Homo sapiens: one gene and its partners. The protein of the gene in region 1 purifies or fractionates together with the protein of each later gene. This does not show direct contact. Each region holds a gene or a part of one and is shown in the gene's direction. Other genes may lie near its edges. The genes, in order: NUAK1, UBAP2L, INCENP, ZC3H18, PPP1CB, FBXW11 and LSM14A.

What was found.
Region 2: the proteins of NUAK1 (region 1) and UBAP2L purify together in Homo sapiens (affinity purification with mass spectrometry; one large-scale study listed by BioGRID and IntAct). This does not show direct contact.
Region 3: the proteins of NUAK1 (region 1) and INCENP purify together in Homo sapiens (affinity purification with mass spectrometry, with the first as the bait; one large-scale study listed by BioGRID). This does not show direct contact.
Region 4: the proteins of NUAK1 (region 1) and ZC3H18 purify together in Homo sapiens (affinity purification with mass spectrometry; one large-scale study listed by BioGRID and IntAct). This does not show direct contact.
Region 5: the proteins of NUAK1 (region 1) and PPP1CB purify together in Homo sapiens (affinity purification with mass spectrometry; 2 studies listed by BioGRID and IntAct, with this or other methods). This does not show direct contact.
Region 6: the proteins of NUAK1 (region 1) and FBXW11 purify together in Homo sapiens (affinity purification with mass spectrometry; 5 studies listed by BioGRID and IntAct, with this or other methods). This does not show direct contact.
Region 7: the proteins of NUAK1 (region 1) and LSM14A purify together in Homo sapiens (affinity purification with mass spectrometry; one large-scale study listed by BioGRID and IntAct). This does not show direct contact.

The regions. Positions count from the first base shown.
Region 1 is NC_000012.12:106,132,455-106,135,954, reverse strand, and holds part of NUAK1 (NUAK family SNF1-like kinase 1), read left to right. Parts: intron 1-3,500. UniProt on the Homo sapiens protein: Serine/threonine-protein kinase involved in various processes such as cell adhesion, regulation of cell ploidy and senescence, cell proliferation and tumor progression. Phosphorylates ATM, CASP6, LATS1, PPP1R12A and p53/TP53.
Region 2 is NC_000001.11:154,265,955-154,268,650, forward strand, and holds part of UBAP2L (ubiquitin-associated protein 2-like), read left to right. Parts: intron 1-546; coding exon 547-614; intron 615-2,696. UniProt on the Homo sapiens protein: Recruits the ubiquitination machinery to RNA polymerase II for polyubiquitination, removal and degradation, when the transcription-coupled nucleotide excision repair (TC-NER) machinery fails to resolve DNA damage.
Region 3 is NC_000011.10:62,141,011-62,144,510, forward strand, and holds part of INCENP (inner centromere protein), read left to right. Parts: coding exon 1-34; intron 35-489; coding exon 490-501; intron 502-3,500. UniProt on the Homo sapiens protein: Component of the chromosomal passenger complex (CPC), a complex that acts as a key regulator of mitosis.
Region 4 is NC_000016.10:88,625,903-88,629,402, forward strand, and holds part of ZC3H18 (zinc finger CCCH domain-containing protein 18), read left to right. Parts: intron 1-1,719; coding exon 1,720-1,880; intron 1,881-2,017; coding exon 2,018-2,217; intron 2,218-2,855; coding exon 2,856-2,952; intron 2,953-3,500.
Region 5 is NC_000002.12:28,758,330-28,761,829, forward strand, and holds part of PPP1CB (serine/threonine-protein phosphatase PP1-beta catalytic subunit), read left to right. Parts: intron 1-3,500. UniProt on the Homo sapiens protein: Protein phosphatase that associates with over 200 regulatory proteins to form highly specific holoenzymes which dephosphorylate hundreds of biological targets.
Region 6 is NC_000005.10:171,870,639-171,874,138, reverse strand, and holds part of FBXW11 (F-box/WD repeat-containing protein 11), read left to right. Parts: intron 1-1,148; coding exon 1,149-1,267; intron 1,268-3,280; coding exon 3,281-3,391; intron 3,392-3,500.
Region 7 is NC_000019.10:34,179,004-34,182,503, forward strand, and holds part of LSM14A (protein LSM14 homolog A), read left to right. Parts: intron 1-3,500. UniProt on the Homo sapiens protein: Essential for formation of P-bodies, cytoplasmic structures that provide storage sites for translationally inactive mRNAs and protect them from degradation. Acts as a repressor of mRNA translation. May play a role in mitotic spindle assembly.

The DNA.
Region 1 (3,500 bases):
TGTGACTGGCTGAACAGAAAATAACACCAAACAAACAAAAAATTGGTCAACGAGTTGTTCTTGCCCATACAGTGCCTGGTGACTCAGAACCTGTTAAGAGCAGTAAGACATTTTCATCTAAAATATGAACTTGGAGTTTTCTTCTGGTACCAGCGATGTGCTAAACATTCACAACATGCTTTGAAGGTGCAGTTGAGGAGAACTGAAAGGGCACTATCTTAATTTAGCCTTTTGATCTTTGGGTAGAATTTTGAAGTGATGTTTTATTTTCATTTGCACCAGTGCCTTTTACAGCATCTCTCAAGAGGAGCAGTGGTTCTAACGTGTTTTACTAATGTGAGTGGCCCAAGACAGGTGCCGAGTATGGGGTTGTATGAAATGCTGTGAAATCAACATCCCTGTTGAAAGCAGGGGTTCTTCTCAGAGAGGAGAGAAGTTTCTAAAAAATGAGGATGTGATGGTTTTTAATTGCATACCTGGAAGGACCTTCTGAATAAAACAAAACACAACACAGCATCATTTTCTATGTGCCGCGAAAGGCAGTTCTGAAGAGAAGTGCAGAATGAGATGCTTGGAGTCAGCTGGTGCGACCCTGTGTGTCGTCCAGGCACTCTCCTGCAGTCTTGCAGCCTCTGCTAAAGCATGTCCGTGAGACCAGGACTCAGAGTGGCTTGTTCCAGAGATGAACAAGCTCAAAAATGAGGCACTCTTGCAGAAAGGCAAAGAGCCCTGGCTTACATTCAAATCCTTGATCTATCCCCTACTAGCTTTGTGTCTTTTGGCAAGCTATGTGACTTTTTGAAACCTCAGCTTCTTCATCGGTAAAATGAGCTACTAAGAGTACCAACTTCATAGACTTGTGAGAACTGAATACAGTGATCTATATAAAACCTCAAAAGGGGACATTAATCAATTTAGTTCCTCCTTTTAGCAGATTTTTTTTCTCATCTCATTTTAGGATTTCATTAGATTTTAAGACCATCAGAGAGACAATGCATTGTATCATGCAGAGAGAGATAGAAGAAATAATCAACTTTTCAGAGTAATAAAATAAATACCAAATTAATTAGGGAGGTGTGTCCATAGGAAGATGAGATAATTAGCCAGATTCAGATAGGATCTGAACACATTTCTCAAGTCTTGAATTTGGGCCTTGTTTATTGCACAACTTTGGTTTTGATACAGTTTTGGGCAGGCCTACTGGGTGAGCCTCTGTGTCATAATTCGGCATGCATTTTCTTTGAGCTAAGCTCCCTGGACCTACAGGCCACACAAAGCGTTGCCAAAAATCCCAAAACCAAAGCCACACAATTTTATGTCCTGTGATCACCTCGATGTCAAGGGGCCAAGTTCAACTTCCTCACTGTACCAGGTTATCTCTAGTGAGCAGTAGGTGGTGTGGTGTGAGCTGGAGGCAGGGTCCCTGGGGGGGAGTCTGGGATGGGAGTGGCAGGACTGGTGGGCAATGTGTGCCCCTCCCCCACAGTCTGCCCTGGTGCCCCTGGCCACTAGAGCATTAGCTTGGGTGATGGGGCATCCTCACCTAGCAAGCCAAGTGTTTTGACCAAAAATGGGTGTTTTAAGCACCCAAAGCTATTCATAGCCTCCTGCTGGAAAACTGCAAATCAGGGAGGCAAATTAGCAAACTGGCCTGCCAAGCCAGGAGGTGTGTTGACGTCACATGCACGGTGGCAGAAGTGCCATGTTGCAGCTAAGGCCCAAATACAGTTTTAGAGTGTAAGGGACCATGGCAAACATGTGGTTCAAACTTGTCATCTTCGAGGTGGGACCAGTAAGGCGCAGAAGTGTTAAGTGACTTTGTTGAGGTTGCACAGGTCTTGAATGACGGAGCTGGATCTTAGAAACCCGATTCTTGGTTTGGTATTTTTCCATCACTCATTTAATAAATCTTTACTAGAGAAAGACATGGGCCTCACTCTTAAAGAACTTATAATCTAGTAGCAAAGGTGAAATGTACTTGCAAACTAATTCTGTTCAGTTCGATGAAGATTTATTGCCATCTGCCATGTGCTACTCACCATGTTAAATGCTGAGACATAGAAATGAGTAAGACCCAGGGAGCTTCCAGCCTGGTGAAAGAGAAGGCAGAAGTAGTTACTAGGCATGAGTAACTCTTCCATAGAGGATTGTTTCAGGTGATTTTCAAGTTGGACAACAGTTCATTGAAGCTTAGCTCATGAAAGTGAGTTTGATCCTGGACAGAATCATATTTCTACTGCTACCATTATTTACTACCAGCTGATATTTTTGAGAGCTTGTGGTGCATCCCACTGTGCTAAGTGCTTTAGAGACATTTTCCCTCACTTAACTTTCACAGCAACCCTGTGAGGTGTAAAATAGTGAGACCCATTTTACAGATGGGGAAAATGACACATAGGGAGGTTAGGTAACTTGCCAAGGGTCAGACAGCTGGATGGTGTTTGTTTGTTTGGATGGAGTTTGTTTGGAAACCCAATGCTGCTAGAGGAATTGAGAACCTTCCTTAATGTTGCACAGCTGGTGACCTCTGGATTTGGGTGTGGTTCTTTGCTAATGGTGCCAGAAGAGCAGCCATGGGGTGATCGCCCACCCTTCCGGAAGGGTATCTAGAGGAGGGGCCAGGGTATACTGTGGGATTAGAAAGTGTTCTCCAGCTAATGGGAGGACAAGTGCTGTTGAAAATGACCCTTGATTTGGGTTTCAGAGGATTGGAATGTGGGGCATTCCAAGGCATTCATTCACTTGTGTTTGGGGGAAGGTGAATATTCCAGGTGGCTTGGAATGCAGGGTTTGTGCTGGGACACAATGGGAGGGCAGGATTGGTAAGGTAAGATGGGGGTAATAATAATAATTGATGCTAATGCAAATAATAGCAACTAATACTTCTTGAGTGCTTATAACATGCTAGGTGCATGTTAACTGATTTAATCCTTATAACAATTCTGCTATCATCCCATTTTCTAGATGAAGAACCTGACTCACAGAGAGGTTAACTAGCTTGCTCAAGGTCACAGGCAGCAGCAGAGCCAGGTTTGGACCCAGGCAATGTGAATGCAGAGACCTTGACCTTAACTCTTCCTCTAGAGGGGTCTGAGCTGGGTTCTGATCACAGTGGGGTGTTGAGCCCGTCAGTTTGGTGTGCTGGCTTGGAGCAGGGAGTTTTTGCAAGAGTTGAGGTTGGGAAGATAAGAATCAGAGCCAAGTTAGGGAGAAGAGATGTGCCTGCTTCTGGTGAGCCATCTGTTTGTTGGTCTGTTTGTTGGACCTCGAGGAGTTTGTTGTAATGAATCAGGTCAGGGAGCTCTTCACCTGGACACATACAGAGTCCTTTGTTTCCCAAGCAGCCTCAGACCCTGGAGTCCCTAGGGGGCTTTGAGGGGTAAGCTGGTTCACTTCCCTGCCTGCAGACAAAAATGCCCCCACACCATGCCAGTGTGTGTTGATCTTGCTTCCTCCTGGGAAGCAGCAGGAGATAAGGGTTTGAGTCAAGGTATCTTGTC
Region 2 (2,696 bases), on another chromosome or scaffold:
AAGAAGCTGGACTAATTGAGCTGAGGCTCTGAGAATGAGAGTGCCCTTGGGGATTAAAGTGGACTGCTCCTCTAGTACTTATGCAGTGGAGGCATGGATTTTGAGCCCAGAAATGTCACTTCAGGAAGAGAGAGGGCCAGACTGCCCCAGTCTCCAGGAATAAAACTGAGTGGCATTTGGGTGGATTGATTTGAAATGGACATTAAAATTAAAAGTTTATTATATTCCTGCTAGACTTTGGCACAGAAGTGTTTTGAAAACAGTGTATGCTAGTGAGGTTTGGTCATATCCCCTTGCCCACCAAAAAACAACTTACCTCACTCTCTCTCACGTATACTCAACACGTACCTGGGAAGGGCCAAAGAACCCTTAGGGAGCTTTTGTTTCATGAACTCTTACCTCTCAGGACTAACTTGAAGCTGGAAAACCGACCAAAATTCCCTTGCATTGGTATAGCTAGAAAGGCTACAGATATCACCTCATCTCAGGAATAAGGGCCAGGTAGCTAGCTGAGCTAATCCTCCTGTCTGTTTCCTCCTCCCCCAGGTGTTTCAGTCACCTCCAGTAACACGGGCGTGCCAGATATCTCGGGTTCTGTGTACTCCAAAACCCAGGTAGGTGCCTGGCTCTGGATAAAAGTGGAAAAGAGATAGACATAGAGGAGGTGGAGTTGCAATGGTAGAAATAACAGTGGACAAGAAGAACCCTAGGAGAGGTGGCAGGAAACCCATCCTACTTTTTCTAAATGAAAGGTCTTCTCTAGACTTCACTTCCTCTAAGAAGTTAAAATTTAGCCCTCTGAGAAAAAAAACGAGAAACGTAATAGGAAGGTAAAGCGTGGCAAATTGTTTATCGTGTCATGTAATTTACTGTGCAACTCTCCTGGCCCCTTTTCCTACCTACTCCCAACCTTTTTCATAACTTTTCAAGAGAATAAGTATGAGAGTGACAGGAAACTAGTTCATTCCATTCTTTGAGTAAATCTATAACAGTGGGAGTGGGAAAGGAGACGACCTAGTAACTAATGAAGCATTTGAGTGATCCACAGGTTTGTTATGTTGCTTTTATCCCCCATCACCATAAATACTTAAAGTTTGCTATAAAGCACTGGGGGTCTGGGGGGGCACTTCATGCACAAGACCTTCAGCACTTCAAATATCTCAGTATGTGTTTATTTCTTTTGAAATATCCAACGAGTTTTTTTTTTTTTTTTTTTTTTGAGATGGAGTCTTGCCTTGTCACCCAGGCTAGAGTGCAGTGGTGTGATCTCGGCTCACTGCAAACTCTGCCTCCTGGGTTTAAGCGGTTCTCCTGCCTCAGCCTCCTGAGTAGCTGGGATTACAGGTGCCCACCACCGCGCCTGCTAATTTTTGTATTTTTTAGTAGAGACGGGGTTTCACCATCTTGGCTAGGCTGGTCTCGAACTCCTGACATCATGATCTGCCCACCTTGGCCTCCCAAAGTGCTAGATTACAGGCGTGAGCCACTGCACCCAGCGGAGTTACTATTTTTGTAAGGAATATTGGAAGGGGTAGGGACACTATTGGTTTGCCTTTTTTTTTTTTTTTGGAGACAGTCTCAAGAAGTCACCCAGGCTGGAGTGCAGTGGTGGAATCTCAGCCTTCTGAGTAGCTGGGGCTATAGGTGTACACCACCAGGCCTGCCTAATTTTTGTATTTTTGTTTTTTGTTTGTTTTGTATTTTGTATTTTTGTTTTTTGGTAGATACAGGGTTTTGCCATGTTGCCCAGGCTCGTCTCGAACTCCTGGGCTCAAGCAATCCACCCGCCTTAGCCTCCCAAAAGTGCTGGGATTACAGATGTGAGCCATCATGCCCAGCCTGGAGTTCTAAGTTCGGATTTCATGATGTTCACATATGACATTCAGTTTTACAAAGTGCTTCCACATTCCATCCTCTTATTTGGTCTTTTTTTTTTTTTTTTTTTTTTTTTTGAGACGGAGTTTCATTCTTGTTGCCCAGGCTGGAGTGTAATGGTGCGATCTGGGCTCACCATAACCTCCGCCTCTCGGGTTCAAGCGATTCTCCTGCCTCAGCCTCCCAAGTAGCTGGGATTACAGGCATGTGCCACCATGCCCGGGTAATTTTGTGTTTTTAGTAGAGACGGGGTTTCTTCATGTTTGTCAGGCTGGTCTCAAACTCCTGACCTCAGGTGATCCGCCTGCATTGGCCTCCCAAAATGCTGGGATTACAGGCATGGGCCACTGCGCCCAGCCTTTTTTTTTCTTTTTTTTCTTGAGATGGAGTCTCCCTCTGTCTCCCAGGCTGGAGTGCAGTGGCACAGTCTTGACTCACTGCAACCTCCACCTCCCAGGTTCAAGTGATTCTCCTGCCTCAGACTCCCAAGTAGCTGGATTACAGGCGCCCGCCACCATGCCCGGCTAATTTTTGTATTTTTAGTAGAGACGGGGTTTCACCATATTGGCCAGACTGGTCTTAAACTCCTGACCTTGTGTGATCCACCCATCTTGGCCTCCCAAAGTGCTGGGATTACAGATGTGAGCCACCATGCCCAGCCTATTTGGTCTTTACAACAGGTTTGTAGCATCCCTGTTTTATATCTGAGGAAACTGAGGCTAAGAGATTGAGTAGTATGCCCAGGTTCACACAGTTCTTAAATAAGAGCAGAGCTGAGACTGAGACCTGAATATGTGACTTCAAGTGTACTGTGCCTTCTG
Region 3 (3,500 bases), on another chromosome or scaffold:
TAAGCGCAACACTCCCCTGCGCATGGACCCCAAGGTGAGGGGCCTGTGCCCAGGCCGGGCTTTGTGGGAGCTGGGCAGTGTGGCTGAAGGTCCAGTCTGTCCTGTAAGATACTGGGAGTAGTGTGAGCCTGGGCGGAGGCAAGTGTGGCCTGGCACTGTTAGGGGCCGGTTGAAGCCTCTGTGGCCACCGGCTGTCTTGACCTCTGAGGGCACTGTCCTGCACTTGACCTTGTGGGCTCTGGACTACAGCCTGGAGGCTTGGCCGGCTCAATGTGAGCCCTGGGGATCTGTGTAGTTAAGGTGAGAGGTACTTGTGGACACCTCCACCACTGGGGTGAGGGTTGGGTGACAGGAGAGGCGGTGGGGGTGCTGCTGGCAGGAGGGCAGGCCCCACGCAGGCTTGCTGGCACAGCTGGGCATGTGGCCTGCCCGGCAGGATGCTCCCCGGCCTGGCATTAACTCTTGCCTTTTCCCTTGTCTCCTCCACAGTGCAGCTTCGTCGTAAGTAAAGCCTTTTCCTGTCGGTAACCTCGCCCCACCTAGCACTCACCCGCTGTAGCCCCTTCCCTGCGTAGCTGACAGCACCTGTAGATGCACTAACATTGTAAGCGGGAGGGGAGCCTTAGGAAGAGAGTGGGACGGTGAGGGGTGCACTGGCTGGAGGCGCCCAGCAGTTCTGGGCCCCAGCGTCCTTCTCTGCCCTCCCTGCCCTTGACTCTGCTCTTAGGAGGAAGCAAGGGGGTGTGGCTTTTCACCAGGGCTACAGCTTGATGTGTTCTCCACAGCCACCTTCCCTCCCTCCTCCCCTGCACCAGGCCCCGTCAGGGTCTGTGGGTCTTTGAAGAGAACAGACAGGTTGTCTGTGGTCCCCAGAGCTACTGAGATTTATTGGTTCACAGACCTGAGCAGTAGCCTTGAGGCAGTGGGGTGATGGGGGAGCGCAAGTGTGGGTCTGAACTGAGGTGGAAGTGCTGGGTCTTGCTGTGCTGGGTGACAGTAGAACAGTGGGTGGTAGCGTCTAGAAACAAGTCGCAGAAGCTGTTCTCTTCTCAGACACCTCAGAGCTGAGCCGAGCCAGGCAGGCCCTGAGCAAGGACCCTCAGATGGGGACATGCTTAGCCTGCAGCCCCAGCTCCCTGTGCCATTTGCCAAGGCCACAGACACCTCATTCCTTTAGTTCCTGCAAGCCTTCTGAAGGGTCCTCTGCAGCCACACAGGGACACCTGTGACAGCCGGGAGGGCTTCTGCCTCCAGTTGAGGGCCTCGGCAGGTGAGAGGGGCTTCCCAGCAGCTGGCCAGGTGGGCCCTGAGCTGGCTTCTCCGCATGGAGGCCTGTTCCCCTCTTGTTGGAGAGGGTGACTGACAGTATACCTTCCAGTGGCCTTACCACCTGTGCCGATTAGAGCCCTGCAGGTCTCACAGGGTGATAGAGAAGACCAGGAAGTGGTCCCCTTTCCTGCTTTGGGGATCCCAGGTCCCTGCACAAAGCATCTAGTGGGTGGGGACAGTCCATAGTTAGGAGACCAGGGGGCTACGGAGTCATTTTGGACTGCATCCTGAACATTCTGCTATGAGTCTCTGGGTCTTGTTTAAATCTATGGACAATGTTGATATTTTCTCAGCATTGCAATTTAGTAGCAATTGACCTGGTTAGGTTTAGGCTGCAGGTTCCCATCTGCCTTCTGTGGACTCTGGTTCCAATGTTAGTCCCGATTTTGAAGATGGCAGTGCTGTTTGGACTTTTCCCGGGTGTGTGCCAGTCAGCAGTCAGCCTGGGACTTGGCAGGTGGTCTGTTAGTTTAGTTCTCAGCCTTCGGTGTGGTAATTAGGATCAGATCCTAGCATCTGCAGCTTAGAGCTGAGCCTGGGCGTTCGTCAATAACCTGCAGCATCATTTTCCCGATCTCCTCTGGGGCTCCCTTTTCTGTCCTCCAGCCAGGAAGCTGGGGCTTCAGTTACCTTGTTCTGCTTTGTGTGCTTCTACGACTGTGTCCAGGGCCACCTGCCAGGGGGACAGGGAAAGAACAACACATAGGATTTGGCCACACTTTTGGGATCACAGCTCCTCCTCTGAGTTTTGACTTGGCAGCTTTCTCTGTCCAGGGTCGCCTGGCAGGGGGACAGACAGAAGAGCAACACACAGGGTTTGGCCCACACTTTTGGGATCACAGCTCCTCCCTCGAATTTTGACTTGGCAGCTTTTCTTCAACTGCTGCTGCCCCTGGTTGCCATAGGACTGCTTGTGGGCTGGGGCACAAGGCAAAGAAGAAAAGAGAACAAACAAAAATGGGATTTCTGCCTTCTCTGAGCATTAGATACTCCCTTTCTGCTGCTTGAGTCAGGACTAGAGGGCTTGTCCTGGAATTCTTTCTGTCCGTGCCCCAGTGACTCCTTTGGAGTTCCAGGCTGTGTTGAGTTAGGCTGGAGAAAAACAATGGAGAACTCACTGCTGGTTGGCTGGTGCTTCCAAGTCTGGTCTTCTTCCCTATCTGCCTGCTCCTCTTTAGTTTTCAGAGGCCTCAAGTAGCCGCTCCTTGCATTCTGTCCAGGTTTTGTAGCTGCATTCAGTGGGAGAGAGAGGTGGAGTATGTCCACTCCATCTTACCCGTTCCCGGGACCCCTTCTCTCCGTCTTTGGGAGGATGGTATTACCTTGGAGCCAGATTTCTAGGCGAGAGTGCTCCTCCAGTTAGGCTCAGAAGCCAAGGAGAAATCGATAGTAACCAGTACAGGAAGAGGGGGAAGCTATTGGACACTGTGCCTAAAGGTGGGAGTCTACTGGGAGCCAGGTTGGGGTGATGGGTGTGGGGCTTCCCTCTGGGTCCCAGCCTCCACCCAGCCCCAGACTGTTCAAGGGGAAAGCACTAGCCTTGTCCTTGGCCAGGGAGGGCTTAGAGCCCCTGCCCATCCCTGCTGGCTGCCCATTGCTGTGGCTGTGCCCCTGGGACTTTCTGTGTCTGCCCAGGAGGGGGTGCCAGCATCAATCAGCTTTTCAGCCAACTAGTACTTTTTTAAAGTTGCCTTAAAAATGAACATAGCCAGCTGGGTGTGGTAGCTCACACCTGTAATCCTAGCACTTTGGAAGGCCAAGGCAGGCGGATCCCTTGAGGTCAGGAGTTCAGCACCAGCCTGGCCAACATAGTGAAACCCCACCTCTACTAGAAATACAAAAATTAGCTGGGTGTGGTGGCACATGCCTGTAGCTCCAGCTACTCGCGAGGCTGAGGCACGAGAATTGCTTGAACCTGGGAGGTGGAGGGTGCAGTGAGCCGAGATCGCGCCATTGCACTCCAGCCTGGGTGACAGAGCAGACTCTGTCTCCACACAAAAAAAAAAAAAGAAAAAAAAGTGCATAGCCATGTCACAGGAAGTTTGGAAAATAAAAGAAAATTAATACCATCCCTAATCCATCTCACTAGACTGTTAGCATTTGTCAATATTTCCTTTTATTTTTTTCAACTATTATGAAATAGTTGATATACACAATAGAATATATGTATA
Region 4 (3,500 bases), on another chromosome or scaffold:
CGCGATCTCGCTACCTCCGCCTCCCGGATTCAACCTCAGCCCCCTGAGTAGCTGAGACTACAGGCGCACACTGCCACGCCCAGCTAATTTTCTGTATTTTAGTAGAGATGGGGTTTCACCATGTTGCCCAGGTTGGTCTCAAACTCCTGAGCTCAGGCATTCCACCCACCTTGGCCTCCCAAAGTGCTGGGATTACATGCGTGAGCCGCCGCACGCAGCCTAATTTTGTATTTTTAGTAGAGACTGGGTTTTACCACGTTTCTGATCTTGAACTCCTGACCTCAGGTGATCCATCCGCCTCGGCTTCCCAAAGTGCTGGGATTACAGGTGTGAGCCACTGCACCCAGCCCAGAAATTTTTTTTAATTAGCTGGGTATAGTGGTGTGTGCCTATGATCCCAGCTACTTGGGAGGTCAAGGTTGAATGAGCTGTGATCACGACATTGCATTCCAGCCTGGACAACAGAGATCCTGTCTCAAAACAAAAAAAAAGGATTTTTGCTATTTAGTTGTTTTAAAAGAAAGTATTAAATCAGTCCTTAGATTCCTTGCATAGAACTCTTTCATTTCCAGGCAGCAGGTCGTTTATATATTTGTCACAGTTCTTTGTTTCTTTTGTTTGTTTTGTTTCTGGAGAGACATGGTCTTGCTGTGTTGCCCAGGCTGGTCTCAAACTCCTGGGCTCAAGTGATCCTCCCACCGTGGTCTCCCAAACTCGTGGGATTATAGGCATGAGCCACCGCGCCTGGCCTAAATGTTTCTTAATAAGTCTGAAATGTTTTAAAGACCTGACTTTTGAAAAAAAAAAATGGTTCTCTTACATTCCCCCGTTCCTTGCTCCGGTACCCAATGTACCTGGAAGACGTGGTTGGTGTTTTCTCGAGCAGCATATGGGCAGGGCAGACTCAGGTGCCAGTCCTGTGTGCTTTGTGTCCGTGTTGAGTGCACGCCAGTGAAGCTACAGACCTGCTGTTTCCAGTCTGTCTGCCGTGTGTTCCTCAGGCATTCCCTGAGACTGCGGAATTGCTCCTTGTGTTTTTAATTTCCCTGTGGGCTGAGGCTATCTCCCTTTTGTCTAAGCCAGGGACTCTGCTTAAATTCCATCCTTGCCGCTGTTGAGTCAGCTCAGTCCTGTTTCCCTTCCCAAAAAGCAACCTGACATTCGTTTTGTTTTTTGTTTGTTTTGAGACGGAGTTTCACTCTTGTCGCCCAGGCTGGAGTGCGATGGCATGGTCTCGGCTCACTGCAACCTCCACCTCCCGGGTTCAAGCGATTTTTTTGCCTCAGCCTCCCCAGTAGCTGGGATTACAGGCGCCTGCGACCACGCCCGGCTAATTTTTGTATTTTTAGTAGAGATGGGGTTTTACCATGTTGGCCAAGCTGGTCCCGAACTCCTGACATCAGTTCAGCTGGGTCTCAGACCCCATTGCTCGTGACGAGATCTGCCCATCTCAGTCTCCCAGAGTGCTGGGATTACAGGCGTGAGCAGCCGTGCCTGGCTGCAACCTGACATTGATTAGTGAAATGGGGCCCTGGCCTAGCCATGGGGACGTCCCTTACTTTGTAACCCTGAAACTGCCCAGTGTCCCCCCAAAATCACACATTCCGTGGGTACATGATCCATAAATGGACACTGCGTAAAAGTGGACCATGGAGCACCCCCTGCTGGCCCCTCCCTCCAGTCTGGCTGGGGTGTGGTGAGATGTGCTTGTGTGTCCAGGTCCCTGAGCGTGAGCAGCGTCTCCTCAGTGTCCAGTGCTACGTCGAGCAGCAGCTCTGCACACAGCGTGGACTCGGAGGACATGTACGCAGACCTGGCTAGCCCCGTGTCCTCAGCCAGCTCTCGGTCCCCGGCCCCAGCCCAGACCAGGAAGGAGAAAGGTACTCAGGAGCCCTGGTACCTTTGGGGAGCAGCTCCCGGGGGAGGAGGGCGGCATCAGCACAGACTTTGCCTGGCTGTTGGTGTGGCCATGGGAAAATCACCAGTACCCCCATGACTGCGGATTTATCATTGGTAGGAAAATCTAAGAAAGAAGACGGTGTTAAAGAGGAAAAGCGGAAAAGGGATTCGTCCACACAACCACCCAAATCTGCAAAACCTCCAGCAGGGGGGAAGTCCTCCCAGCAGCCCTCGACACCCCAGCAGGCACCCCCCGGGCAGCCCCAGCAGGGCACATTTGTGGCCCACAAGGAGATCAAGTTGACACTGTTGAATAAGGTGAGGGCAAGGGCCCTCCTGGTGGCTGCCCCAGCGTCTAGGCCTGGGTCCATCTGCTTCCTGAGACAGCTTCCTCCTGGGGGACGGAGCCTGAGTGAGGGCGAGTGGGGCCTTGCAGGTGTCAGCACAGCCTGGGTAACAAAGCGAGACTCCATCTTTCCGGCCTGGGCTGGGAAGTGTGAGCATCTGGGGAGGTTTGGGTGCTGCTGGCCTCTCTCTGAACAGAGAGGGCGTTCTCTTCGTGCCTGTGGCCGCCATTCCCTGCCATGCAGTCTCAACACAATACAGGAAGCCTCCGTCCCTGTCCTCTGTCCTCAGCAGGACACATCCCTGTCCTCTGCTGGAAGGGCAAGAGGCCTGGCTTCATGGGTCCCAGGTCCTCCTAGAGTGGCCCCCGTGGGGAGCAGGAAGGCCTGCAGGGTGCTTCCCCTGGAACGTGAAGGGCCCCAAGTGCACAGTGGGGGTGCCCTTGGTCCGGGTCCTGGAGGCCTCACTCAGGGCTACGGGGTCTCATGGGTGTGTGGTGGGACCTTTGGGAGCAGAGCAGGTTGCTGGCAAGGAACCCATGTCCTCTGGGGCGAGGACACGGCTTCTGGCTCCTGGCCCTGCTGTCCTCACTGGCCTCTCTCTTGTCCCAGGCGGCTGATAAAGGAAGCAGGAAGCGCTATGAACCATCAGACAAGGACAGGCAGAGCCCTCCTCCAGCCAAGCGGCCCAACACATCCCCAGACCGAGGTGAGCCTCCCAGCCCCTAGGGGGCAGGGCAGAGGGACGGGAGCCTGGGGATGCGGAGCAGCTGGGTCTGAGACCCCATTGCTCTTAACAAGTAGGAGGAGGGTCCAGAGAACATCTGACTTGCAGATGATGCCTGTCGGTATTTAGGGTGTTGAAAACTAAAACGAAGAAAAGGTTTTAAATATTTGTTTAAAAATAACAGGACCGGGCGTGGTGGCTCACGCCTATAATCCCAGCACTTTGGGAGGCTGAGGCCGGCAGATCACTTGAGGTCAGGAGTTCCAGACCGGCCTGGCCAACCTGGTAAAACCCTGTCTCTACTAAAAATACAAAAATTAGGCCGGGCGCGGTAGCTCATGCCTGTAATCCCAGCACTTTGGGAGGCCAAGGTGGGCAGATCATCTGAGGTCAGGAGTTTGAGACCAGCCTGGCTAACATGGTGAAACCCTGTTTCTACTAAAAATACAAAAAATTAGTTGGGCGTAGTGGCGTGCGTCTGTAATCCCAGCTACTTGGGAGGCTGAGGCAGGAGAATCGCTTGAACCTGG
Region 5 (3,500 bases), on another chromosome or scaffold:
ATGTTAAGATTCTTAGAAATACTGACTTAAATTCTGTTATGTATTTCTGAAAGGTTATTCTCGAATGTTGGTGGCATATAGGGAGGCAAGGGGAAGAAATAGTTTGTAAATGTCAGTAGGTTTAGCAGTGGTGTGGTAGATGGGGATTCCCAGTGGAGTCTTCTAGGATTTGTGATTGGATACAGATTGATACCCTTAGGCAGCAGCCACTGCTTCTAGCAGCTTTAAATAGCCATTTCAAGGCTTATTCAAGTATAAATAACCAGTAGCCAGTTTTTTCCTGATTTGATAGAGGAAGTCAGTCCTTGGTCTAGATGGGTACTTGTCATACAGTAGGAAAAAGGGCGGGGGCAGTTGTCCTTTATTCTGCCTCTGCACTATTCACATGTGGAGCACAGTGATTTGTGAGAGTATGTATAACCTTCGTGAACATCACTGGCCTCAGAACCCTCCCTTGCCAAATTTACCTGCATCTGTGCAAAGACAAGTGGAGATATTGATGATATGTGCATATCCCAGAGGGAATAGCGTTTGCTTTTTGATGCATGCCCACCCTTGCATAATTGGGAGGTTTTAACATAGCATATTTCACCATAAAGGAATTTTATTCTAAGAATGTTAATCAGAATATCCCTAAGTAACAGAAGTTCCCATCTGGTCAGTTGCAAGGTGACCAAAACACTTTCTTGGTTTGAGTATAGTCATATGTTCTGTCAAATGATGTTTTGGTCAACAGTGGACTTCATGTAAGGTAGTTAGTGGTCCTGTAAGATTAGAATGGAACTGAGAAATTCCTGTCACTTAGTGACATCATAGGCATAATGTCATAGTGCAATGCATTACTCTTGTTTGTGGTAGTGCTGGTGTAAACCTATTGCACTGCCAGTTGTGTAAAAGTACAACAGGCCACGCGTGGTGGCTCATGCCTGTAGTCCCAGCACTTTGGGAGGCCAAGGCAGGTGGACCACTTGAGGTCAGGAGTTCGAGACCAGCCTGGCCAACATGGTGAAACCCCATCTCTACTAAAAATACAAAAATTAGCTGGGCTTGGTGGCATGCATATGCCTGTAATCCCAGTTACTCAGGAGGCTGAGGCAGGAGAATCACTTGAACCTGGGAGGTGGAGGTTGCAGTGAGCAAAGATTGCACCACTGCTCTCCAGCCTGGGCGAAAGAGTGAGACTGCATCTCCAAAAAAAAAAAAAAAAAAAAAAAAAAGTATAACACAATTATATAGAGTACATAATACTTGATAATGGTAATAAACAGCTATGTTATATATTTACCTTTTTTTTTTCTTTTTTTTGAGACAGAGTTTCGCTCTTGTTGCCCAGGCTGGAGTGCAGTGACGCGATCTCAGTTCACCACAACCTCTGCCTCTCAGGTTCAAGTGATTCTCCTGCCTCAGCCTCCTGAGTAGCTGGGATTATAGGCGTGCACCACCACACCTGGCTAATTTTTTGTATTTTTAGTAGAGACGGGGTTTCACCGTGTTAGCCAGGATGGTATTGATCTCCCGACCTCAGGTGATCCGCCTGCCTCGGCCTCCCAAAGTGTTGGGATTACAGGCTTGAGTCACTACGCAGGGCCCTGGAATATATTCTTATTTTAAAAAACTAGTTAAAACCGACTCAGGCATGTCCTTCAGGTGGCATTCCAGGAAAAAAAGCTTCGTTATCCTGGGAGGTGATGGCTCCATGCATGTTACTGCCCCTGAAGACCTTCCAGTGAAGATGTGGAGGCGGAATATAGTGTTACTGATGATCCTGACTCTGTAGGCCTAGGCTAATGTGTGTGTATATGGCTTAGTTTTTAACAAAAGTTTAAAAAGTGAAAAATATTTTTAAAAATAGGAAAAGGCTTAATAGGATAAGGATATAAAGAAAATATTGTACAGCTGTATGATATGCTTTTGTTTTAAGCTAATCGTTACTAGAAAATTCAAAATGTTTAAAAATTTTTTTAAGTTTCTAAAGTAAAAAATGTTAAGTAAGCAAAGGTTAATTTATTCTTGAAGAAAGAAAAATATTTTTATCTTTATTACTGTATATACATTGTGCCTTTTCTGTGTTTAGATATGTTTAGATATACAAGCACATTGTGTTACAGTAGCCTGCAGTATTCAGTACAGTAACATACTGTGCATCATGCTTTGTAGCCTAAGAGCAATAGACTATACCATCTAGGTTTGTGTAAGTCCACTCTGTGATGTTTGCACAACAACAAAATCACCTCACTGTGCATCTCTCAGGAAGTTTCCCTTTGGTAAATGATGCATAACTGGACTTGTCTGACACCATTTTAACCTTCCCCCTAGTCCTACCTCTCATTCTCAAGATTTGGAGAAATCAAAATCTAAGTTTTCATAATAAAAGGTTAGGTATATTGGGTGTTACATAGCTTTCACTAATGTCATATCTAGCAGTTGTAATCACGTATTTTAAAACTTTAAATAGTAAATTAAGAAGGAATCTTTATAGGTACTTGTATGTTTCCTCAATGTGGTTTGAATTGAGCGTTTTATTTAAATTACTATCAAATACTTGAGCCAAACTAGCGAGACAAAAAGACCAGACCTTTTCTTTTTTCCGAGATGGAGTCTCACACTGTTGTCCAGGCTGGAGTGCAGTGGTGCAGTCTCGGCTCACTGCAGCCTCCGCCTCCTGGGTTCTAGCGATTCTCCTGCCTCAGCCTCCTGAGTAGCTGGGATTACAGGCGCCTGCCACCATGCCCAGCTAATTTTCTGTATTTTTAGTAGTAGAGATGGGATTTCACTAAATCTCGAACACCTGACCTTGTGATTTGCCCACCTTGGCCTCCCAAATTGCTGGGATTACTGGGGTGAGCCACCGCGCCCGGCCGAGACCAGACTTCTGAGGGGGAGAAACTTGCAAACCTGTCAGTGAGAAAGAGTGAGGTCTGATTTTAGATGACAGAAAGGAATAGCTTTTGTGAATTTCGGACTCCCAACTACTAGAATTATGTGAATCCTGAATGATAATCAGATGTTTACTCAGTTAAGTGTTTACTCAAATATTAATAAGTATTGATACATTGGGATGCCATCTTATATAATGATTAACGACACAGATTCTGGGTGTATTTCAGCCCCAGTTTCTTCTGCATATATGATAGTAAGTGCCTTCAAACAATTCTTGACACATTAAAGGTCAGAAAATGTTAGCCGTCATTATTGCTTAGTACAAACCTGAGCTAGGAAATACTAACAGAGAGCTCTTTGTGCCACTGAGTCCTGGAACTTCCCCATACTAATTTTGAGAAGGCTTTCTTGTAAGTATGTGACAGATACTGTTTCCTCCACTTTCTGTTTATTGCATATAACCACTATTCTTGTATGTAAGTACGTATAACAGTTTCTTTACTATTCCCATTATTCAGCGTTTATAATCTGGTTTGACATATCAGTGTTGGTGCTGAGAGGGAAAGGTATTTCTAGGTAGGATAAAATGGTGAAAAGTGATTTAACACTGTTGTATGCTT
Region 6 (3,500 bases), on another chromosome or scaffold:
TGGGCACAAGTCCCTTATCAGATACATGATTTGCAAATATTTTCTCCCTTTCTGTGAGTTGTCTTTTCACTTTTTTGATGGTGTCCTTTGATGCACAAATGATTTTAATTTTGATGATGTTCAATTTATCAAGACTTGTATAGTTTCAGTGCTTATGTGTAGGTCCTTGATCCATTTTGAGTTAAATTTTTGTTTAAGGTATGAGGTAGGGGTCCAGTGCCATTCTTTTACTTGTGGAGATCTATTTATCTATCCCATTCAGCTACAAATGCAGCTGGTAAGATAATTCAGGGCACTCTGGTTGCTGTGTGTCTCCTTATTTGTCTAATAATATGTTTAGCTGTCTATGAACATCTAAGTCAGATACCACAAAAGAGGGGATTATTTATTCTGCATACATACAATTAGAAGTAATGTGTCAAAACAAATGGAGCTGTTCCAGAAAATATGCTGGAAAAGAGGATGATATGAAAGGTGAGACTTTTTGTTTGTTTTTTGAGACAAAGTCTTGCTTTGTCACCCAGGCTGGAGTGCAGTGGCACAGACACAGCTCACTGCAGCCTCAACCTGCTGGGCTCAAATGATCCTTTCACCTCAGCTCCCTGAGTAGCTGGGACCACAGGTGCATGCTGCCATGCCCAGCTAATTTTATTTTTTGTAGAGATGGGGTTTCACTATTTTGCCCAGGCTGGTCTCGAACTCTTTAGCTCAAGCAATTCTCCTGTCTCAGCCTCCCAAAGTGCTAGGATTAGGTGTGAGCTACCGTACCCAGCTGGAAGCTTTTTTATTACATTAGCTCCATGGGGTTTGAAATGTCAGCTGGTGTAAAAACATAAAATCTGGCCCAAACTCTTTCCTCCAGGTAAATGAGCGTTTGAACCATTCAGGAGATGTTCTCTTTGTAAAGATCTCAAAGACTGGAGACTTCACTTCCCTCCGTGTTTCATTCCAGTGTTATTACTCAGCAGCCAAGAAAATTTTATGCTGTCTAGTCTGCCCCCCAGCCTCCCAACTTTGAGTTAGAGGACACCGTATTTTATAATCACATATTTGGGTCATTATCAGAAGCTCTGTCTTTTTAAGAAAGGTATATTGTGAGAGGACTTTCCTGTGTTCATTCTTTAAAATACTGTTAATTTGTTATACAGGTCTGGAGCACGAGCACCTGTGAATTTGTTCGTACTCTCAATGGGCACAAGCGGGGCATTGCCTGTCTCCAGTACAGGGATCGCCTGGTTGTTAGTGGATCATCAGATAATACCATTAGGTGGGTAGAAGTTGGTGTGCTGACAGAGCAGGCTGATTTTTGCCACATTGTTGACTCATCTCCTAGTTCTAATGCTCAAAACAACTCAGGGTAAATGGGATGTTTCAGATAAGAAAGCTTTAGGTAACTTTTAGAAATGTATTTGGGCTCTGTATACTCAAGTGGGAAAACCGTGTGTGCCCTGGGTGTTCTTCCAAGATTCCCCCAGTACACAAAGTTTTTTAACCTCAGCTCCACCTGGGATCACTTAATACCAGAGCACTTCAGAACAGGCTAGGGTGCTGCAGTGCAGCCCAGCTCGCTCCAATTTCCCTCACCTGTGAGCTCCCACCTCCCTACCTAACACATGGGAGTGTACTTTATTTTCCTCTCCCAAGACTGCATCTGTTCCTGCCAGGTCATTTACCTCTCTTTTTCCTTCCCAGCACTCGGCCTCCCTGCTTTCTAATAAATCTGACTAACCTTAGACATTTTGTATCTTACTAAGAACATCCCTTCAATATCTACTTCATTATCCCATGCCATTTCCCCACTGTCTCAACACACTCTAGTGGCATTACATAAGTGACTAAACTTAACTTTGGTTTATAATCAAATTGACTAATGTTTGGTCAAAATAAAGATAGGATTCAAGATTATTAAAAAAAGTTTTTTGTTTTTTAAAGGCAGGCAAGCAAACACATGCTAGTAGCTTTACATAAGTGACTAAACTTTGGCGTTTATAATTGCCTAATGTTTGGTCAAAATAAAGATTGGGTTTAAGATTATTAAAACTTTTTTTTAAGGCAAGCAAATAACAAAAAAGCTATTTAAGTTTGCTTTATCACTTTAGGCTTCAAGATACCATAAATTTAGTTTAGAGCTTAAATCTTGATTCTCTTATATTCATCATGCTTTGTGGTATTGCTTAATGTTTCATCAATAAACAGTTCTTAACTTCCTCATTGGAATTGTCAAGGTTTTACAAGATAGTAATGTGTATTACTCTCCAGCTTATAGAAGGGAACTACTTTGGAGTCATAGTGGCAGTACTGAATGGCTTTGATCACAGATTAGAGATGCTATCATCACGGGTACTAAGAAGATTTGCTAAGGGCAGCTGTAATAAAATACATTCTTTGGATGTATCATAGGAATTACTGGTAGAGAGGCTAAGAAAAAGTTATAGAATTAATTTGCTCACTTTATTTTGTACATGCTAACTAGCTATGATTTTTTTCTACAAATACTGTAGAAAATCAGTCATAATAGGAAAAAAGATCTCTAACTCCAGAATTGTTACATAAATCATATGCAGAGAAAAAGACTTGGTGTTGTCAATGGGTTTATATTTCCACCAGAACACTGCGTGTACCTAGTAAGTCTCCCACTCTGACTTTGTAAACCGTCAATCCCAGTATTCAGCATATAGTATCAAGGAAGGGGTATCCCCAAGCCTCATCAAGAGACAGCCACCTCCCCTGCTGGTCCGCCAGTTCTAACCTCAGTGGTCCTTATGGACTCCACTGTGCTAGAAGTGCCTGGGGCGGAAGCTTAACCCCCTGGCTGTACGTGATATCTCCTTTCCCACCTTGTCTCATCTGTGCTCTTTCTCCTTTACTGCCTACAATCCCTGTCTCCCCAGAAGAGTCTTTCCTACACCATTTGTCTACATGGTTTTTATCAACTCAGACATCAAGAGAATGCCTAAGGATTAAATAGAATTGAAGTTTCTTGTTTGTTGATTTTATTTAAATAGTAATACAGACGCATGATTAAAAACAGTTTCAAATCATATAAAAGGAAATAGAATAAAAAGTAAGGCTTCTTCCTAGGTTAGTGCTTGGAAACACACAGATGGTATAAATGTACACATACAGCTTTATATGTGTGGTGTGTACTGGAAGTGAGATAGAAATAAAGAGCTCCAAGATAGTGAAAAATTGTATCTGTATGGAACAGATATAAAAAACTTACGGATAGTGTGAATCGTGTGTGGGAATTTGTTTCACAGAGGTCTGTTTTTCATTCAAGGCTCTGGGATATTGAATGTGGTGCCTGTTTAAGAGTCCTAGAGGGACATGAAGAATTGGTCCGATGCATCCGGTTTGATAACAAGAGGATTGTCAGTGGGGCCTATGATGGGTATGTCTTTCAGATTTTCAGATGTACTGCTATAACTGTATCAAGAAGAAAGAGAAATGTTATATATTAAGCAACTCTGTATGTACCAGGTCCTATGGTAGGTTTCTGT
Region 7 (3,500 bases), on another chromosome or scaffold:
TATAAGTGAGTAGGATGCCTAAATAGGCTAAAATGAATGAAATTCTTATAAAAAATAAATTCTTACATTTAGTTAGCTTACCTGGATAATCATTCAAATGGAAACCAGGTTGCTACTGCACTGGGAAAAGAGACTTTATGAAGAACGATTATATAAGCCACTTGCCTTTAAAATAAGTTGTTCTTAAAATCAAGAGATTGGTGGAAGAATAGAAAAACAAGTAAATTGTTAACAGATTTCTTTAATCATCTGCTAAGTCTGGCTCATTGGCATAATTTATCTACTTCTTGATGTTAGTCACATAGTCATAAACTATTACCTTATTGGAGAGAGTGGAAGAGCTTTGTGTGATGGATAAAATACTTGCGGGGTGCTTTATTTGATTTCTTGCATTACTTGGGGATCTAAATCTAGCAATTCACAAAATTACTATCTAAAATGACAAAGATCTAGTGAAACTTCAAGCCACAGTTTCTTTTTGTTGCCCTATTTAGTGATGTTGCCAGTACTTGGAGCCTTGGAAACAGTTTATTATTGTTACATAGTCCGCAGAAATACTTGGTAATTCTGGGAGTCTGAAGTCAGGTGCCAGAAACTGTTCATTTTCTAGTAGGGGTAAGTAAGGTAAGCCATGATTTTCTAAGTCGGAAGTAAAGAAAACAGCATAAAACTGAAGAAAAAAAATAGTAGAAGGAAGGAAGTAGGAAGAAAAAAGAAATCTTATCTGTGCATGATACATAGCAGGAGTTTTGTATTTAACTCAGTGCCACAGTAATAATAGCAGTAACTACAGATAGTTTAACTTGAATTTAATTATTCCGTGCTAGAAGATGCTTGCTATAGAAACAATTTGTCTTTCTCTCATGATGCTATAAAATAATATATTAATTAGCTGTTTTAAAAACTAGATACCATTGAAGTAAATTTTGTTGTTGTTGTTTTGAGACAAGAGTCTCACTCTGTTGCCCAGGCTGGAGTGCAGTGGCACGATCACAGCCTTGACCTCCCTGGGCTCAGGTAATCCTCCTGCCTCAGCCTCCCAAGTAGCTGGGACCACAGGCACACACCACCACACCCAGCTAATTTTCTGTTTTTTGTAGATACAGGGTTTTGCCATGCTGCCCAGGTCGGTCTCTAACTCCTGGGCTCAAGTGATCTGCCTGCCTTGGCCTCCCAAAGTGCTGGGATTACAGGTGTGAGCCACAGTGTCTGGCTTGAAGTAAGTTTTTTAGTGGACAAAGTGTGAGTTGGTCTGTAAAATAATTTATTCCCAAGGGCCTTATTCTAGTTTTGTAGGGTTTTTTGTTTGTTTGTTTTTTTCTGGAAGAAAATGCGACCCAAAATGCCAGTTGGAATACTTAGCAGCTTTTTGGTCTTGGACAAGTTATTTAACCTTAGCTTTAACTTCTTCATCTTTTCAATAGGGATGGATAATAATGCCCATCTTTCAGAGTCATTCTGATAATTAAATGAGGTGATATAAAAGAAGTAACTAGTTTAATGTTGGTGCTTAATAGAGAATAGCTGTCCCATGTTATTTCCCACCACGATCTCCCTCTCTGTCTAGGTGCTCAGTCTCTCTAGTAGCCCAACTCAGTCAGTCATTCACACCTACTGTAGTCTACTGTCATCTTACTGCCTTTCACTGTCCTCTCATTCCCCTCATAACTTTACTTCCTTCTTTATCCTGCTTCAACTCCATGAGCAACCACGACAGTCAGTACACATTCCCTCAGCCCCCACCCCATTCCCCTCTTGCTGTCTTATACAAGAAATCACAACCCTGATTATATCAACACAGATGTGCTGACCAGCCTCACTCTAAATTTATGTTCGCTAGCCTCCGCAGTCATGGTCACTTCCTAGCAGTCACACTATACTTCCATAATCCATTTCACTTTTCTACATGGCTATTCCATTCATTTTCCTCAAGCCTCCAACACCTCCCCCATATTCACTTTCAGCCCCTTAACCGTGCTTTCTATAGCAGTTAACTGAGAAAAGAACAGCAAACGAAAGATAATTTTGATAAACTTACCCCTCACATACCCAGTTACCTGCATCTGTTCCCCAGACTTCTATGTTTTTTTCTGATCAATATGGATAAACTGTTCTTATTTCTGTCTAAGACCACCCTTCCACTTGTGCAGCATTTGTCCCCTCTTGGTGATTCAAGAACATTGCTCCAGCAGTTCTCTACTCTCCTCAGTTTTTCCTTCCCTAACGTATCTTTCTGTCTGCTTACAGATAGGCAGTTATTTCTTCTACCTTAAGAACAACCAAAAAACCCCACTGTACTTGAACTGAATTTCCTCTTTTCTAATGATTACCCCATTTCTATCCTTCCCTTTATAGCGAAACCCCTTGAAGAAGTTGTCTACACCACTGGTGTTCATTCATTTTTGAGCCCTGTTTACTAAGGTTTTTATTCCTACATATGAAGTTTTCTTATCAAAATTACCAAAGATTTCCATGTTACCAAATCCAGTAGTTAGTTCTTAGTCTCATTCTACTTCACCAGTCAGCATTACGTGGTACAGTTAGTCTGTTCTCTGTGAAGCATTTTCTTAACTTGATCGTATGCCATTTTTTTCCTCATATCTCACTGGTTACCTCTCAATCTCCTTGGCTGATTGAACCTGTAAGCCGCCAAATGTTGGGAGAGCTCCAGGGCTCAGTTATCTCCCCTTTTCTCTCTGTCTGTTAACATTTATTTAATCATCTGCATTCTTTTGATGATCTCATCCATCTAGTTCCTGGTTTCAAATACTACCTGTATATCACTGACTCCTATCTCTAGCCTGAATTTCTCCTCTGAACTCCTGACTTGTATATCCATTGCCTCTTTAACATCTCTACTTGTAGGGAAGTCTGCTAGAATCTCAATTCAGCATGCTCCAAACCTGTTCCTCCATCAGCCTTCCCCATCTAATCAAATGACAGCTCTATTCTAGTTGGTAAGACCAAAACACCTTGGAGCCATCCTTAATTCCTCTCTCTCTGTCTCACCTCATGTGATCCGAACCTATCAGCTCTGCTTTCAAACTAGATGCAGAATTTGACCTCTGACCACCCCTACTACCCTGGTCCATTATCTCTCACTAGTCTATTCAGAGATACTCAGATTCCTGTTTCTTGTTTCCAATATTGACCTCTCAGTTGATTCTTTCTCCTCCTCCCAATTTTACTTGAGTGAATCTTTGTAATTAAAAAATAAAATATATGGGAAATGTAGGTGACAAATTTTCTTAGTGAACCTATGTTTTCTTGTGCTTGACTGGTTGGTTGGCTATGTATTTCCAAATTAAGAGTCTTTTTTCTGTGGAACTTTGAAGTTACTGCTTTTTGTTCTTCTAATATTCTGGGGTTGCTGATGCCAGTCTGACTCTCAGTCACTTTTCTCTCTGGAAGCTTTTATTTAGAATTCTCTATTCCTGGAATTCACAAATGTGATCACACTGGTTTGTTGTTGTTTGTTTGTTTTTTGGTTTGGTTTGATT